Regions from separate parts of the Homo sapiens genome. Here region 2 is linked to region 1. The links come from fine-mapping of genetic effects on gene expression. A gene starts in region 1. The other region holds a variant in brackets. All regions are shown on one strand. Distances are between the middles of the regions.

Region 1 (2,926 bases):
ACAAAAATCAGCTGGGCATGGTGCCACACACACATACACACACACACACACACACCCCTATAAGCCTCATAAATATGAACAATTATTATTATTTTTTGAGACAGAGTCTCTCTCTGTTGCCCAGGCTGCAGTGCAGTGGCGCGATCTTGGCTCGCTGCAACCTCCGCCTCTCAGGTTCAGGCAATTATCCCTGCTTCAGCCTCCCGAGCAGATGGTATTACTTTTTTTTTTTTTTTGAGACGGAGTCTCACTCTTGCTACCCAGGCTGGAGTGCAGTGGTGCAATTTCAGCTCACTGCAACCTCCGCCTCCTGGGTTCAAGTGATTCTCCTGCCTCAGCCTCTGAAGTAGCTGGGACCACAGGCGCGTGTCACCATGCCCGGTTAATTTTGTATTTTTAGTAGAGATGGGGTTTCACCATGTTTGTCAGGCTGGTCTCAAACTCCTGACCTCAGGTATTCCACTTGCCTTGGCCTCTCAAAGCACTGGGATTACAGGCATGAGCCACTGTGCCCGGCCTTGGTTACATTTTTATTCAATAAAGTAAACAAAAAAGTTTTTTTTGAGATAGGGTCTTGCTCTATTGTCTAAGCTGGAGTGCAGTGGTGCATTCATAGCTCACTGCAATCCTGACCTCTCAGGCTCAAGCAATCCTCTCATCTCAGCCTCCTGAGTAGCTGGGATTATAGGAATGCATCACTATGCCCAGCTATTTTTGTATTGTTTGTAGAGATGGGGTTTCACCATGCTGCCCAGGCCAGTCTCAAACTTCTGGGCTCAAATGATCCACCCGCATTGGCCTTCCAAAGTGCTGGGATTACAGGCATGAGTCACAGCACCCGGCAAAATTCAATTTTTAGAGCTTACCCTCAACTGTAACCCCTGTTATAAATTTTAAGCCTCTGATGTCACTAAAACAATATCAAAAGATGTTATAAGAGTTAAACCTCATCATGCTTGCAAAATGAATTGGTAAAATATGATGCCATATTCGTATAGAACAATGGTCTCCAACATTTTTGGCACCAGGGTCTGGTTTTGTGGAAGACGGTTTTTCCACAGACAGGAAGGGGGTGCAGGATGGTTTCAGGATGATTCAAGCACATTACATTTATTGTGCACTTTATTTTTATTATTATTACACGATAATATATAATGAAATAATTATACAACTCATCGTAGTGTATGATCAGTGGGTGCCCTAAGCTTGTTTTCCTGTGACTAGATGATCCCATCTGGGGGTGATGGAAGACAGAGACAGATCATCAGGCATTAGATTCTCATAAAGAGCACACAACCTAGATCCTTTGCATGCACAGTTCACAATAGAGTTCTCGCTCCTATGAGAATCTAATGCTGCTACCGATCTGACAGGAGGTGGAGCTCAGGCAGTGATGCAAGCAATGGGGAGCGGCTGTCAATACAGATGAAGCTTCACTCATTTGCCCACCACTCACCTCCTGCTGTGTGGCCTGGTTGCTAACAGGCTACGGACCAGTACTGGTCCATGGCCAGGGGATTGGGGACCCCGGTATAGAACATTAGTTTTTGTTGTTGTTGTTTAATCTAGTTTCTGAGTAAGACAACACAGGTACGTTGTACAGTGAGAACTGATAACGAATATCACTGTTTCATATGTTAAGTTATCTAAAATGCAAATGTTAATTGATAGTGCCTGGTTTTTTGCTTGCTTGTTTGTTTGCTTATTTCTAAAAATGCTTTCAGGAGCTGCTGGCTGTCAGTGTCCCTGTGCTGTTTGTTTTGCGGTGTTGATGGCACATTTATGACAAGAAACGCCAGACCCAACATTGTCCTGCTGATGGCAGATGACCTTGGAGTGGGGGATTTGTGCTGCTACGGTAATAACTCAGTGAGGTAAAGATGGACTCTGACCCCCTCCCTGTATGTGGGAGTCTCCCTTACCACAGTGTTCACGTCTTTGCCGTTGCAGAGAAGGGTTTCTGGAGAGAAGTCATTGTCTGATGTTATCGGCAGGAATAGCAGAGGTCACTGGGGAAAATTGCAAAATGTCAGGAGACCACTTAACCTCCCAGTTTCCTTAGATTCTAGCTGTTGGTGGTGGCGTTTTCATTGTTGGGCAAAATTTACATTTAAAAATTGGCCTTTTTTGATCAGGCATGGCGGCTCAAGCCTATAATCCCAGCACTTTGGAAGGCCAAGGTGGGAGCATTGCTTGAGCCCAGGAGTTTGCGATCAGCCTGGGCAACACAGGGAGACCCCGTCTCTACAAAAATAATAAAAAAAAAAATCTACTGGGACATGGTGGCGTGTGTCTGTGGTCTCAGCTACTCAGGAGGCTGGGGCAGGAGGATTGCCTGAGCAAGGGAGATTGAGGCTGCAGTGAGCTATGATCCCACCACTGCACTCCAGCCTGGGTGACAGAGGGAGACTCTGTTTAAAAAAAAAAAAAAAAATCACCTTTTAACCATTTTAAAGTGAACAATTCAGTGGCATTTGGTACATTCACAGTGTTGGACAACCGTCACCCCCACAAAGAAGACCCCCATTTCCCATCCTATCCCCATGCCCTGTTAACCACAAATGTACCCTCTGTCTCTATGGATGTGTCTCTTCTTAGAATTTCATATACAAGTAATCATATAAAGTATTTATTTTCTCAGGCTGCCGTGACAAAGGTCCACAGACTGGTTGGCTTAGATAACATCAGCTTATTCTCTCACAGTCCTGGAGGCTGGAAGTTCAAGATCAAAGTGTGGGCAGGGCTGGTTCCTCCTGAGGCCTCTCTCCTGTCCTTGTAGATGCCGTCTTCTCCCTGTGTCTTCACAGGGTCGTCCCTCTGTGTGGGTCTGTGTCCTCATCTCTTCTTCTTATGAGGTGTCTTAGTCTATTTCAGGCTGCTATAAAAGAATACCATAGACTGGGTGGCTTAGAAACAACAGACATTG
Region 2 (2,926 bases), 21 kb after region 1:
TATTCATTGTATATATATAGGATTGTGGATACTGGATTATATATTGTAAATTAATAGAAGTGAGCTCCTGAAAGCATTCACCTCCTCTGGCTTGTCATGTGGACTTGCTGTAGTCATAACTGTTAATTAGCAAAGACTAAATTGGTGCTAAACCTAGTAGAAAAAGTGAGGAACAGATCTGAGTCACCATATATATGCCATCTAACGAAGTGTGATTATTACAGTCATGATGATTCTAACAACTGTACCTATTATATATTATAATAATTATTATAATTGCATGAGTATGTGTGAGTGTAAAGCCCCTGTCCTTAAAAAGCACACATAACCCTGGAATAGGACTGGCAAAATTGTTGTGAGCATTTCTCAGGCTTTGGGACAGGATGCCTGTTTCTCAGGGTGCTTCCTGTGAAGCGATGAATTCAATGGATAGAGAGATTTAGATCTCCTGGGTAAGCAATGGGTTTTGTTCTAGTCTAGTTACACCTCGCAGCTCTGCCCCACAAAGATACAGGTTATTAAATACGATGAAGAAAACATCAGGATGGCTTTATGATTGTATGTTAAAAGCACATAGATTTGGTTCAGTGAGCTTGTCGAGTTTTTCTTATAATAAAGAATGGTGCTACTTGGGAGGCTCAGGAGGGAGGCTCGCTTGAGCCCAGGAGTTGGAAGCTGCAGTGAGCTATGATTGCGCCACTGCACTCCAGTCTGGGTGACAGAAGGAGACAGTGTCTTAATTAAAAAAAATAAAAATAAAAAAAGAATGGTGCCAAGAAGCTGAGCTGCCTTTCAACACTGGTTAGACTGGTTAGATCAGTGAATGTGTCAGCAGTGAATTTTACCTCATTTTCTGCTAGAGGCTTCCGGTTTTGTGTTTCTTTGTAATGCTGCCTGTCAGACAGGTGCGCACGTAGAAGACATTCAATGAAAATTTCACATAGGAAGAGACCTTTTCCTCCAGAGAGGTTCCTATTTTTTCTTAAAGAGTCTAGACATATGGTCTTGACACTGGCATTTGGCATAGGGCCATTTTTCTATTCTGTAACAACCGCCTCAGTCTCATGATTGATCTTACGGCAAGGGCTTCATTTTTGTTTTGTGCTCAGAAACACCCAAGGGGACTTTTGTCTAAGAAGTGATTCTCAACTCTGCCTCTGGCCATTTTTCTACTCACACTCCTCTCTTTCTTCCTCTATATGGGAAATCACGGGGTAAAGTTTTTTAGCTTGTTCCTCAAGGATCATTATAATGTGGATAAAACCTGTATTTTTCTTTTCTTTTTCTTTTTCTTTTTTATTTTTTGGAGACAGAGTCTCACCCTGTCACCGAGGCTGGAGTGCAGTGGCACAATCTCAGCTCACTGCAATCTCCACTTCCTCGTCTCTGATCCCCCGACTTCAGCCTCCCGAGTAGGTGGGACTACAGGCATGCACCACCATGGAGTGCAGTGGCGTGATCTCGGCTCACCACAACCTTCGCCTCCTGGGTTTAAGCGATTCTCCTGCCTCAGCCTCCCACGTAGCTTGGATTACAGGCGCCCACCACCATGCCCAGCTAATGGTTTTGTATTTTTAGCAGAGACGGGGTTTCACCATGTTGGCCAGGCTGGTCTTGAACTCCTGACCTCAAGTGATCCGCCCACCTCGGCCCC[C/T]CAAAGTGCTGGGATTACAGGCGTGAGCCACCGTGCCCGGCCAATATGGTTGGGTTTTAACTCATCTTTGGTTGTGTCGTAATCTTTGGTTTTAGGTGGCAAAGGAATGGGAGGATGGGAAGGAGGTATCCGTGTGCCAGGGATATTCCGGTGGCCGTCAGTCTTGGAGGCTGGGAGAGTGATCAATGAGCCCACCAGCTTAATGGACATCTATCCGACGCTGTCTTATATAGGCGGAGGGATCTTGTCCCAGGACAGGTATGGAAACAGTGTTTGCTCCTAACCTAGGGTGATATATTTGAACATAAGTGGATATACTTGATAATTCTATGTGTGTGTGTATGTACATAGTATATTACTTAATTATCAATATTCTGCCCATAGGGCCAGATGTCTTTCTCCCCTTGGTGCGTGGTGGAATATTTTGTTTTCTTCTTAGAGTATACCTTAATATCCTTTGTCATATTACACTTATGCCTGTGTGTGTTTGACTGTTCTCATGGATGGGATCTGATTCTCATACATCATCACATCCCTCACAGCTTCTAGACCATTATGCAATTAAGTGTTAAATGATTACTGAATAAAAACATGTATGCCTAGAGCAGGTGCGGTGGCTCGTGCCTGTAATCCTAGCACTTTGGGAGGTCAAGGCTGGCGGATCACTTGAAGTCAGGAGTTCGAGACCAGCCTGGCCAACATGGTGAAACCCCCATCTCTACTAAAAATACAAAAATCAGTCTGGTGTGGTGGCACGTGCCTGTAATCCCAGCTACCTGGGAGGCTGAGGTGGGAGGATCGCTTGAACCCAGGAGGTAGAGATTGCAGTGAGCCGAGATCTCGTCACTGCACTCCAGCCTGGGTGACAGGGTGATGCCCTGTTTCAAACAAAAACAAAAACGAAAACAAAACACGTATGTGTAATTGCATGTGTGCTAAATGATATTATTCTTTCTGGTTTGCACTTTGTCTATGAGCTTATTTTTAATTTAATTTAAATTTATTTTTTTTGAGACAGAGTCTCGTCCTGTCAGCCAGGCTGGAATGCAGTGGTGTGATCTCGGCTCAGTGCAATCTCTGCGTCCCGGGTTCAAGTGATTCTTCTGCCTCAGCCTCCTGAGTAGCTGGGACTACAGGCGGGCGCCACCATGCTCAGCTAATTTTTGTATTTTTAGTAGAGATGGGGTTTCAGCATGTTGGCCAGGATGGTCTCGATCTCTTGACCTCGTGATCCACCCACCTCGGCCTCCCAAAGTGCTGGGATTACAGGCA

Alleles and levels. Alleles are on the strand shown, and positions count from the first base shown. SD is a standard deviation of normalised expression in the study named.
As copies of T replace C in region 2, the expression in breast of the gene that starts at base 1,716 in region 1 goes down (moderate effect, 0.48 SD a copy in GTEx).

What was found. PIP is the estimated chance that this variant, and not a neighbour inherited with it, causes the effect.
Region 2: its variant is fine-mapped to the expression of ARSH in breast (GTEx, PIP 0.93).

The regions. Positions count from the first base shown.
Region 1 is chrX:3,004,831-3,007,756 of GRCh38, forward strand. It overlaps ARSH (arylsulfatase family member H), which reads left to right and starts at 1,716. Exons shown (of 9, transcript NM_001011719.2): 1 at 1,716-1,874. The coding sequence starts at 1,783.
Region 2 is chrX:3,025,564-3,028,489 of GRCh38, forward strand. It overlaps ARSH (arylsulfatase family member H), which reads left to right. Exons shown (of 9, transcript NM_001011719.2): 7 at 1,750-1,912. Among named protein-coding and RNA genes, the nearest start is that of ARSF, 14 kb to the right of the region's middle. The variant C/T (reference allele first, on the strand shown) is at 1,655.